3 separate regions of the Homo sapiens genome follow, and all the other regions are linked to region 1. The links come from fine-mapping of genetic effects on gene expression. A gene starts in region 1. Each other region holds a variant in brackets. All regions are shown on one strand. Distances are between the middles of the regions. Region 1 holds the start of TRANK1 (tetratricopeptide repeat and ankyrin repeat containing 1). Region 2 overlaps TRANK1 (tetratricopeptide repeat and ankyrin repeat containing 1). Region 3 overlaps TRANK1 (tetratricopeptide repeat and ankyrin repeat containing 1).

Evidence for each region. PIP is the estimated chance that this variant, and not a neighbour inherited with it, causes the effect.
Region 2: its variant is the best candidate, but not a certain one, in a credible set for the expression of TRANK1 in whole blood (INTERVAL, PIP 0.84).
Region 3: its variant is the best candidate, but not a certain one, in a credible set for the expression of TRANK1 in whole blood (INTERVAL, PIP 0.68).

Annotation. Positions count from the first base shown.
Region 1 is chr3:36,943,683-36,946,440 of GRCh38, reverse strand. It overlaps TRANK1 (tetratricopeptide repeat and ankyrin repeat containing 1), which reads left to right and starts at 1,387. Exons shown (of 24, transcript NM_001329998.2): 1 at 1,387-1,654. The coding sequence starts at 1,632. RefSeq lists an enhancer at 1,220-1,289 and a silencer at 1,520-1,739.
Region 2 is chr3:36,851,839-36,854,596 of GRCh38, reverse strand. It overlaps TRANK1 (tetratricopeptide repeat and ankyrin repeat containing 1), which reads left to right. Exons shown (of 24, transcript NM_001329998.2): 14 at 2,252-2,451; 15 at 2,741-2,758. Among named protein-coding and RNA genes, the nearest start is that of LINC02033, 31 kb to the right of the region's middle. The variant T/A (reference allele first, on the strand shown) is at 1,442.
Region 3 is chr3:36,858,117-36,860,874 of GRCh38, reverse strand. It overlaps TRANK1 (tetratricopeptide repeat and ankyrin repeat containing 1), which reads left to right. Exons shown (of 24, transcript NM_001329998.2): 12 at 1,981-2,157. Among named protein-coding and RNA genes, the nearest start is that of LINC02033, 37 kb to the right of the region's middle. The variant G/A (reference allele first, on the strand shown) is at 1,422.

The DNA of each region.
Region 1 (2,758 bases):
TTTTTTTTTTTTTTTTTGTATTTTTAGTAGAGATGGGGTTTCTCCATGTTGGTCTGGCTGGTCTCAAACTCCCGACCTCAGGTGATCCGCCTGCCTCAGGCTTCCAAAGTGCTGGGATTACGGGTGTGAGCCACCCGCCCGGCCTTGTTTTTGTTTTTAAGCTCCCCAGGTGATTCTATTGTGTAACTAAGGTTGGGAAGCACTGCAGTATAGAGTTTGCATGAGGAAGCTAAGATTGGAAATGTGGGGCAAGATTGTGAAGAAGAATCTCAAATGCCCGGGTACCTAACCTGATCTCTAGGAGACAATGGAGTGCCACTGATGGCTTTTGAACTGTACGTGATTCATCCTGATGTTTGGGGAAGATCAATGCACAGAAATCTCTGTGAGATTCTAGAAGCAAGGAGACCACTAGCTAGACTGAGACTAGTTCACAACGCAGAATGACCAGTGGAGAGAAGTATACTGTGTGCCTTAGGTGTGTCCACGTGTTACCAAAGCCTCTCTGTTTCGCTGAAATGTGTGGTCCCCCTCACTAAAGCTCTGGTGGTGTCCTCCCTGCCACCAGGCAGCCTGGTGTGGTGGTCCCCCAGAAGGATGGGCGAACCACCGGGATGCAGTGTAGGCCGAACCTTGCCCCAGGGGAGGGCGGCGGGCTTAGCTCTCTGATTGGGTGGATTCTCTGGTGTGTAGGAAAGTACTCCCAGGCCCAGAGAAGCTGTGAAGACCAAACCGGCTCCCTAGGCCGAGAACCGCTGGGGAGGTAGCAGCCAGAGGTGGTCCTCTCCGACCCACTACTCTGTCGATCATCACTGGGGAGGTGGAAAGACAAGGCAAGATCCTCATTTTGTTGCCTGCTCAGGCCTGTGCGCACTTACTCTCCATGGACACGACGGTGAGCGTGGAGCAGCCCGCGGTCTCGCTGCCCCCTTCACTCCCGGACCCCCAGCCTCCCCAGAGTGGAGGGGCAAGCACACAGTAAGTACTTGATATTCGCCCGACTCCTGAGCTCCTCATCTGTAGGAGCTAGGGGGCTTGTTCTCCGTACGTCCTTTGTTGGAGGGAGGAACGAGGGAAGGAGAAAACCCACGCTGAGGCCGTTGGCCGATCACTTTCTTTACCTCCCGGACAACATTGATGGGCCCCACTAAGGAAAGCCGAATTCTCGCATGCCCGAGGAGTGTCGGAGGTGGTTGTGCGCCTAGTCCCTCCTGGTAAAGGGTTCGAAGCACTCGTTTATTCAAAGGCGGCCGAGAGCCATACCATTTGCTTGCATGACGGGAGACACCGAAACGCCCCTTTTGAACGCGATGACAAACACCTCCTCCCACTCAGCAGCGACGTGCACGTGACAGTTTTTGGGCTCTCGCAACTACGTGGAAACTTGGAATAGGTCTGCGGCTGCACACCGCCCGGACGCCGGGGTTCCTGCGTCCCCCGCCCCCTCTGATCGCGGCTGGGTAGCCGAGCCGCAGGCAGCTGGGGGCCCCCGAACGCCGCCTCTGCATCGCGCCGCCCCTGCCCCGGGCTCCGGTAGCTTTCGGGCTTCCGCACTGCCCGCCGCGCCCTGCCCACAGGGAAGCGCTTCCCCAGGCGGCGGCGGTCCTGGTGCGGACCCTCCGGCCGCAGCCATGTGGGACCCGCGGGCAGCTAGGTGCGTAGCGGCGCGGGAAGCACTGGGGCATCTCTGGCCTTCCGGGCCCGCCACCCTTCCTGGCGGGAGGCGGCCGCGCGCGGGGACTGGCGACCCTGAGGTAGCGGCCGAACGGGCCCGCCCGGCCATCCCTGTGGGGCCCACAGCCATCTAGGTGCAGACCCGAGCCAGTTGCGCGGGGTCGGTCGCGGGGGACGGCTTCGGCCTTTTCGGTCCGGAGGGACCAGGGCACGCGCTGCGACAGGACTGCGGCGGCGCGCGGCCTGCCTAGCTCCCACCCCGGCATCGAAGCCGCAGCTCTCGGGCCCACCTCCGCATCCTCAGGGGTTCCCGGGGGCTGCCGACAGGTTCCTGACCAGCGAGCGCGCCCCCGGGGCAAGCATTCTTGGCGGGCAGAAACCTGGGAGCGGAGCACAGCGGTGCAAGGGAACCGTGCCAGGCGGGAAGGGCGGAATTTGCGGGGAACTTGGAGCGCGCTGGCCTCTTCCCGGCAGTAGGAGGCCTTCTTCCCTGCCCGCCCGATTGAGGGCTGCTGGGCTGGCTCAAACTGGACTGCACGGTCCATCAGCCTGGGCTCACCGAGTCTAGGGGGAAGGTAGTAGTAGGGACCCAAGGCTGGGAAGCGGAGCCCTTAGAAGCCCTTGCTTCTGCCTCGGAGCGTTTCCGAACCGGAGCTCGGAGTCTGTTGCCTGGGAGGCGCGTTGCGTTTCCTCCCAACTCCCTGTCTCCGTCCCGCGGGGAGCCCTGTGCACTTGCAACCCGGCTGAGATAGAGCCCATCTTTGAGGTGCAGCTCAAGCCACCTTTTCTCCCAGATCGGGGTGTTTCTGGGCAGTTGAAAGCTTTGGTGCTTCCTAGGAAAATTTTTATGGAAGTGTGCAATTTGGAAAATAAAAGAAAAAAAAATTTAAGAAGCAGAAAGAGAATGGGGCTCTGAGGTCTCTAGTTCCCCTATCTGCTCCAACCCAGTTGCTGCTGGCTCAGTTAGTCCTTATGCGGGAAGGAATAGCTGGGATTAAAGCCTTGTGTTCCCAGCGTAGGTATGCGCTCCTGCTCCCTCGTGCTGAGCGTTTTGGGTTCCAGGATCCTTTTTGATATAAGGCTG
Region 2 (2,758 bases), 92 kb after region 1:
TAAGGTACACAAGTTTAAATAACAGGGTACCAATGCTGGAATATTTCCTTTATGGTTTATAGATACTAACAAATTTATCTCCTTTGGCCGACAAATATCTGTGAACAATATGGAGTATTGCTTTACATGTTTAAAAACTGTAATGGGATCATGCTGGACATATCTTTCTGTAACTGGGTATTTTTGCCTAATGTTATGTTGTTGAGATTTCTTTCTTTCTTTTTTTTTTGTTTTTTTCAGATAGAGTCTTGCTCTGTTGCTCAGGCCGGAGTGCAGTGGCGTGACCTCGGCTCACTGCAACCTCCACCTCCTGGGTTCAAGCAATTCTCCTGCCTCAGCCTCCCAAGTAGCTGGGACTACAGGCGCCTGCCACCATGTCCAGCTAATTTTGTATTTTTAGTAGAGATGGGGTTTCACTATGTTCGTCAGGCTGGTCTTGAACTCCTGACCTGAGGTGATCCACCCACCTCAGGCTCCCAAAGTGCTGGGATTACAGGCGTGAGCCCTCGTGCCCAGCCTGTTGTTGAGAATTTTGCATGTTGATAATGTGGAGTTCTAGTGCATTCATTGAGGTTCACATAGCATAAAAGGCACCCATTTGAAATGTTCAGTTTAGTGTTTTTTAATGTATTCACAAATTGTGTAACTATCACCATCATCTAATTCTAGAACATTTTCAGAAATTAAAAACCCCTCAAAACCCATAATCATAGCAGTTACTACTCATTGTGTCCTTCTTCCCACTCCACGGTGACAACTCATCTTTCTGTTTCTACGGATCTGCCTATTGTGGACATTTCATATGAGTGTAATCATATAATACATGGCCTTTTGTGTCTGGTTTCTTTCACTCAGTTTAATGTCTTTAAGGTTTATCCATGTATAGTATGTATCAGCACTTTATTCCTTTCTATGGTTGAACCATCTTTTGTTTTTTGAGTATGGTTACATCAAAAATTACTTGTCTAGTTCCCTAGAAGGCCATTTAAGTGGATTCTACTGCAACTTTTGTGCCCTTTTCTGATTCTCCTGTTAATGTAGATATATATTTGGCCCCTGCTAACTCCTAATGGGAAGGGAACCACAGTAGAAGCTTATTTGCTTAGATTCAGCAGTTTCCACTTAGGCTTATTGCTTTATATTATATACTTTTAATAACAACAGTATTGGATAGTCACATTTTCCCTTCACTATTTGGTAATAGCAATGGGGATACATATGCCCATTTCATGACGTTCTACCTAGACCATTGTATTCTATCTGGTGTTTGAAAAGGGCACCTGGCTTCTAAGAGTAGTGGAGACACCCAGGAAGGTCTATGTTCAAATCCTATCACTGGGAGATATCTATTAGCTTCTCAGACCTCAGAGTTCCTGTTTGTAAAAGTGCAATTGTCTCATCTGTCTCACTGCATTGTTGTGAGGATTTGTTGTTGTGAGGA[T/A]TAAATGGGATGACTTTTTTGAAGGTGCCTGCTGTATGATAGGCATTAAGCCAATGTCACTATTAACGTCACTTCAGATATTAGAGAAGAAATGGGACCCAGGAATAAATCTCTTTGGAAAATCCTCTCTCCTGCTCTGACATTTTTTCTTAGTGTAATCCTCTCTCAACTGGGTATAAACCTGGGGGAAAAGGGTGATGGAGGCCTTGGTTGCTGTCCTTAGCTCACATGCAGCACTGTTTTTACCATGGTAATATTGGTTCTGTAAGCACCAATGGGAGAGGACAAGGCAATTCTGGTTTTCTTACCAAAGTCAATACCAGCCCCTTATGAGAGCATTCTAACAGCTCTCATTGTTTTTTTTTTTTTTTTTTTTTTTTAATTGAGATGGAGTCTCGCTCTGTCACCCATGCTGGAGTGTGCTGAGGTGTGATCTTGGCTTACTGCAACCTCCGCTTCCTGGGTTCAAGCGATTCTCCTGCCTCAGCCTCCTGAGGTCTCATTGTTTATATTACATTTTTGCCTTGACTCTTCTTTGTGAGGTAATTTTCTCTAATATGAATATAGGTTGGGAATGAGATCCCACAAAACTCTCTCAGCACAGCAACATATCTCTGCCTTCTCATCCCCTGCACCCAGAGAGCTCAGGGCTGCAGAGGTAATCAAATGGGAACTGAAAACGGGCTTGCAATTATACATACTGTAGGGGCCAAACCTGCTTCTCAGGAAAAACATGTCCCCCACCCCAAATAACCAAAAAACTCAGCCATGTTGTTAATTATCCAACTTGGGTTTTCTGTTTCATTCCAGGAATCCTCAATCTGGCATCTGGAGTGGTGGATTTACTTCAGTTCTATTTCCCAGAATCTTTTGATCGCCTTCCAAGGGATTCTGGCCTCTTTGATGGTCCTAAGCCAACTGTTCTGGAGTCTTGTAGTGTAAGCGACTTGGCAATTTTGCTACGAGGGAATAAAAGGAAAACTCAGCCCATTGAATTTGGAGCCCACCAGGTGAGCTGCTTGGGATTTTATGTTTTGAAATAAAAGACAGTTTGCAATTGAAAAAAGTTTGAGAAGCTAAATTATACCACAAAGTAGCATTAAAAATAGTCCCTGTCCCACAGTGGGTGAGTTCCAGAGATGGCTGAGTGACCAAGTGTTTCAATCTTTCCCCTGGCCTGCCTGACCATGTTTATGCTGGCCATTTCTCTTTAAAAACATTACCTATCTCCCATAGAAATAGACTGAGGCTTACTGGGGTTTTCTCTGTAGAATTTGATGTTCTTTTGTTTTTCTTCAGGTAATCCTTGTGGCCAAT
Region 3 (2,758 bases), 86 kb after region 1:
CTTGTCCACATTCTCCACGTGATGGAGTCCAGGCCACTGCCTGCCTTTCCCTTGCTTTTGGAGGCACCATGAAGTTCACCCTCATTGCCTACCCTGTATATTCTTGTTTTGAAACAGTGATGGAGGTTACTGCCCTGTGAGTGAGTTGCCCTTGAGGATCTCTGCATTTTTGTGAATTCCAGTTACTACCTTTCTCTTTTGTATGGGAAACATCAGGTGTTCTCTTTTGTATGGGAAACATCAGGTGTGTGAAGGGTCCTTGGCTCTGGTTTAGCCTACAGCAGTCATTTCCTCCTGACCTCTGGCTAGACTTTGACTTGCAGTGGATATACTGTGTGGATCCTTATCTACTCCTGTGACATTCTTTTCTGATCAACAGATTGGGATTCAAGATGCTTGTTTTTAAAGAAACGGTCAAGTAATTGGTGGGTGGAAGCATCTGCTGCTTTAATGAGAACTATCATGCGTGGCTGGGTGTGTGTCTGGAGTGTGCAGACATCTTGCTGAATTGGCTTTTATTTCCAAGCTGATTTAGAAACACCAACCTCCTCCTACCTCTGTCCCTCACACCTCCACTAATGCCAGTACTAACTGTGTGGCATTGGACATGCCATTTATGACTTCATTTCCTCATTGGTAAAATGGGAATAAATAGGCCCCCTTTTATAGGGTTGTTTTGGATATTAAATAAGTTAATGTGTGCAGGCTTTTAGAAGAGTACCTTGGCTATGTAGTTCTCTGCTTGCTTCGTGCTGTATGAGGAATTGTCTTTTACGAGAAAAAACATTATGTGTTATCAATAACACATAATATGTAAGATATAACAGTGACACACAAGACATTGTGTGTTATCAATAACACATAATATGTAAGATATAACAGTAACACACAAGACATTGTGTGTTATCAATAGCACATTGATCCTTAGCCCTCAAAGTGCCACACACCTTGCAGAGCCTTTAGGTGTTGGCTCCATCCACAGCTTTCAGGAGGTAGGTGGGGTGGCTTCTATAATTTATTTTTTTAAACTCCTTCCTTAAGTGGAGTGTTACTTTCTTTGCCTGGAAACCACAGCTGTCATGGAATTCCTGTTTTATTTCTTGATTCGGCAAGCACTTATAGAGCACATCTCAGGATCAGGTGCTAGGAACCAAGCCCACAGAGGTGAGTGCGCAGCTGCTGGAAGTGTGTGGAGGAGACTGCAGATCTATAGTGGGTGGGTCTGCCTTCTGGTGGAGGTTGGGGAACTTTGATGCAGAGGAGCTGTGTGGACTGAACTAAAAAGAAGGTGATTTCGGGTGGAGAGATGTCAGGGAAGATGGCAGTTGAGAATAGGAGCTCAGTAGAAGCAAGGGATGTGGCATGTTCTCACTCATAAGTGGCTGTTGAACAATGAAAACACATGGACAAAGGGAGGGCAC[G/A]TCACACACCAGGGCCTGTCAGGAGGTGGGGGGTTAGCGGAGGGATAGCATTAGGAGAAATACCTAATGTAGGTGACAGGTTGATGGGTGCAGCAAACCACCATGACACGTGTATACCTATGTAACAAACCTGCACGTTCTGCACATGTATCCCAGAACTTAAAGTATTAAAAAAAAAAAAAAGAAGCAAGGGATGTAGAAAGTGTCCTCACACTGACTGTGTCAGGTATGATGTTAGGTGGGTGTTAGGGTTTCAGTTCTCATGCCCTGTCCTCATGCCAGGACAGTGGGAATGGTGGGAACTATGCTCCTGTGGTGGGGAGCTGGAGAGGAGGCGGGGGTGAGGCCCCCAGACAGGGTGCTTGAAGGAGCTGGGCTTTCACTTTGTGGCTACTGGCAGAAGCCTTTGCCTCCCAGAATGGGTGCTGGTAGGAGGATCTTGGAAGTTAGGTAAACATTAGCTCTTCCCTTGCAACTGAATAACTGAAGCATTCCTTCTCTCGTCAGGCGAGCCAGGCTGTGCCTGCTCACATTGCGCTTCCCTTCTCTCCTCTCCCAGCCTTGCCTGATGGTCTTCAGGAGAGCCAGGAGAGGCCAGTTGTCACGTGCCTGAAACATGAGGACTTCGAGTTGGCTTTCCTTCTCTTGACCAAGGGCGCAGACCCCCGTGCTATTTCTCTCACGGAAGGTGATACTCCTTTGCATGCAGCACTCCACATCTTTCTAGAGATTAAAGGTAAGCCCTTGTTTTTTAAGCAGCCGTCTCCTTGAGGAGGAAGCTGGATATTAGAACTGATGCTATGTTTTCTGGTCTTTCCTTTTGTGTAAACCAGTGATCTGAAAAAGGCCCATTTCTTGGCCAGGCCTGCCCATGTCACCTGGCCCCTCACTTGTAGCATAATGGGAAGAAGTGACCACCATGGTGAGTGGTCAGGGAGGGTTGATGGAGGATTCTAAAGTTCCAGAGTTGGCTGTTGGTAGCTGAAAAATACTTTCCATTTATTTATATCATTTTCAAGGGTCTGCGTATGAAGGATCTTGCTAGAATCTTGTATGGTCATTTCAGGAACTACCATGACATTTGGGCTGGGTAGTTCTTTGTTGTAAGGCACTGTTCTGTGCGTTGTAGGATATTTAGCAGCATCCCTGGCTTCCACCTGCTAGCTGCCAGTGACACTCCCCTAGCTGTGACAATAAAAAATGTCTCTATACATTGCCAAATGTCCCTTGGGGAGTAAATCACCATTGGTTGAGAACCACTGAGCTCTTTAATGGATTTCAGATTTTTTGGGGGAGTTCAGCATTCTGAGATGCCCCTGGCTGGCATCACTCTCAAA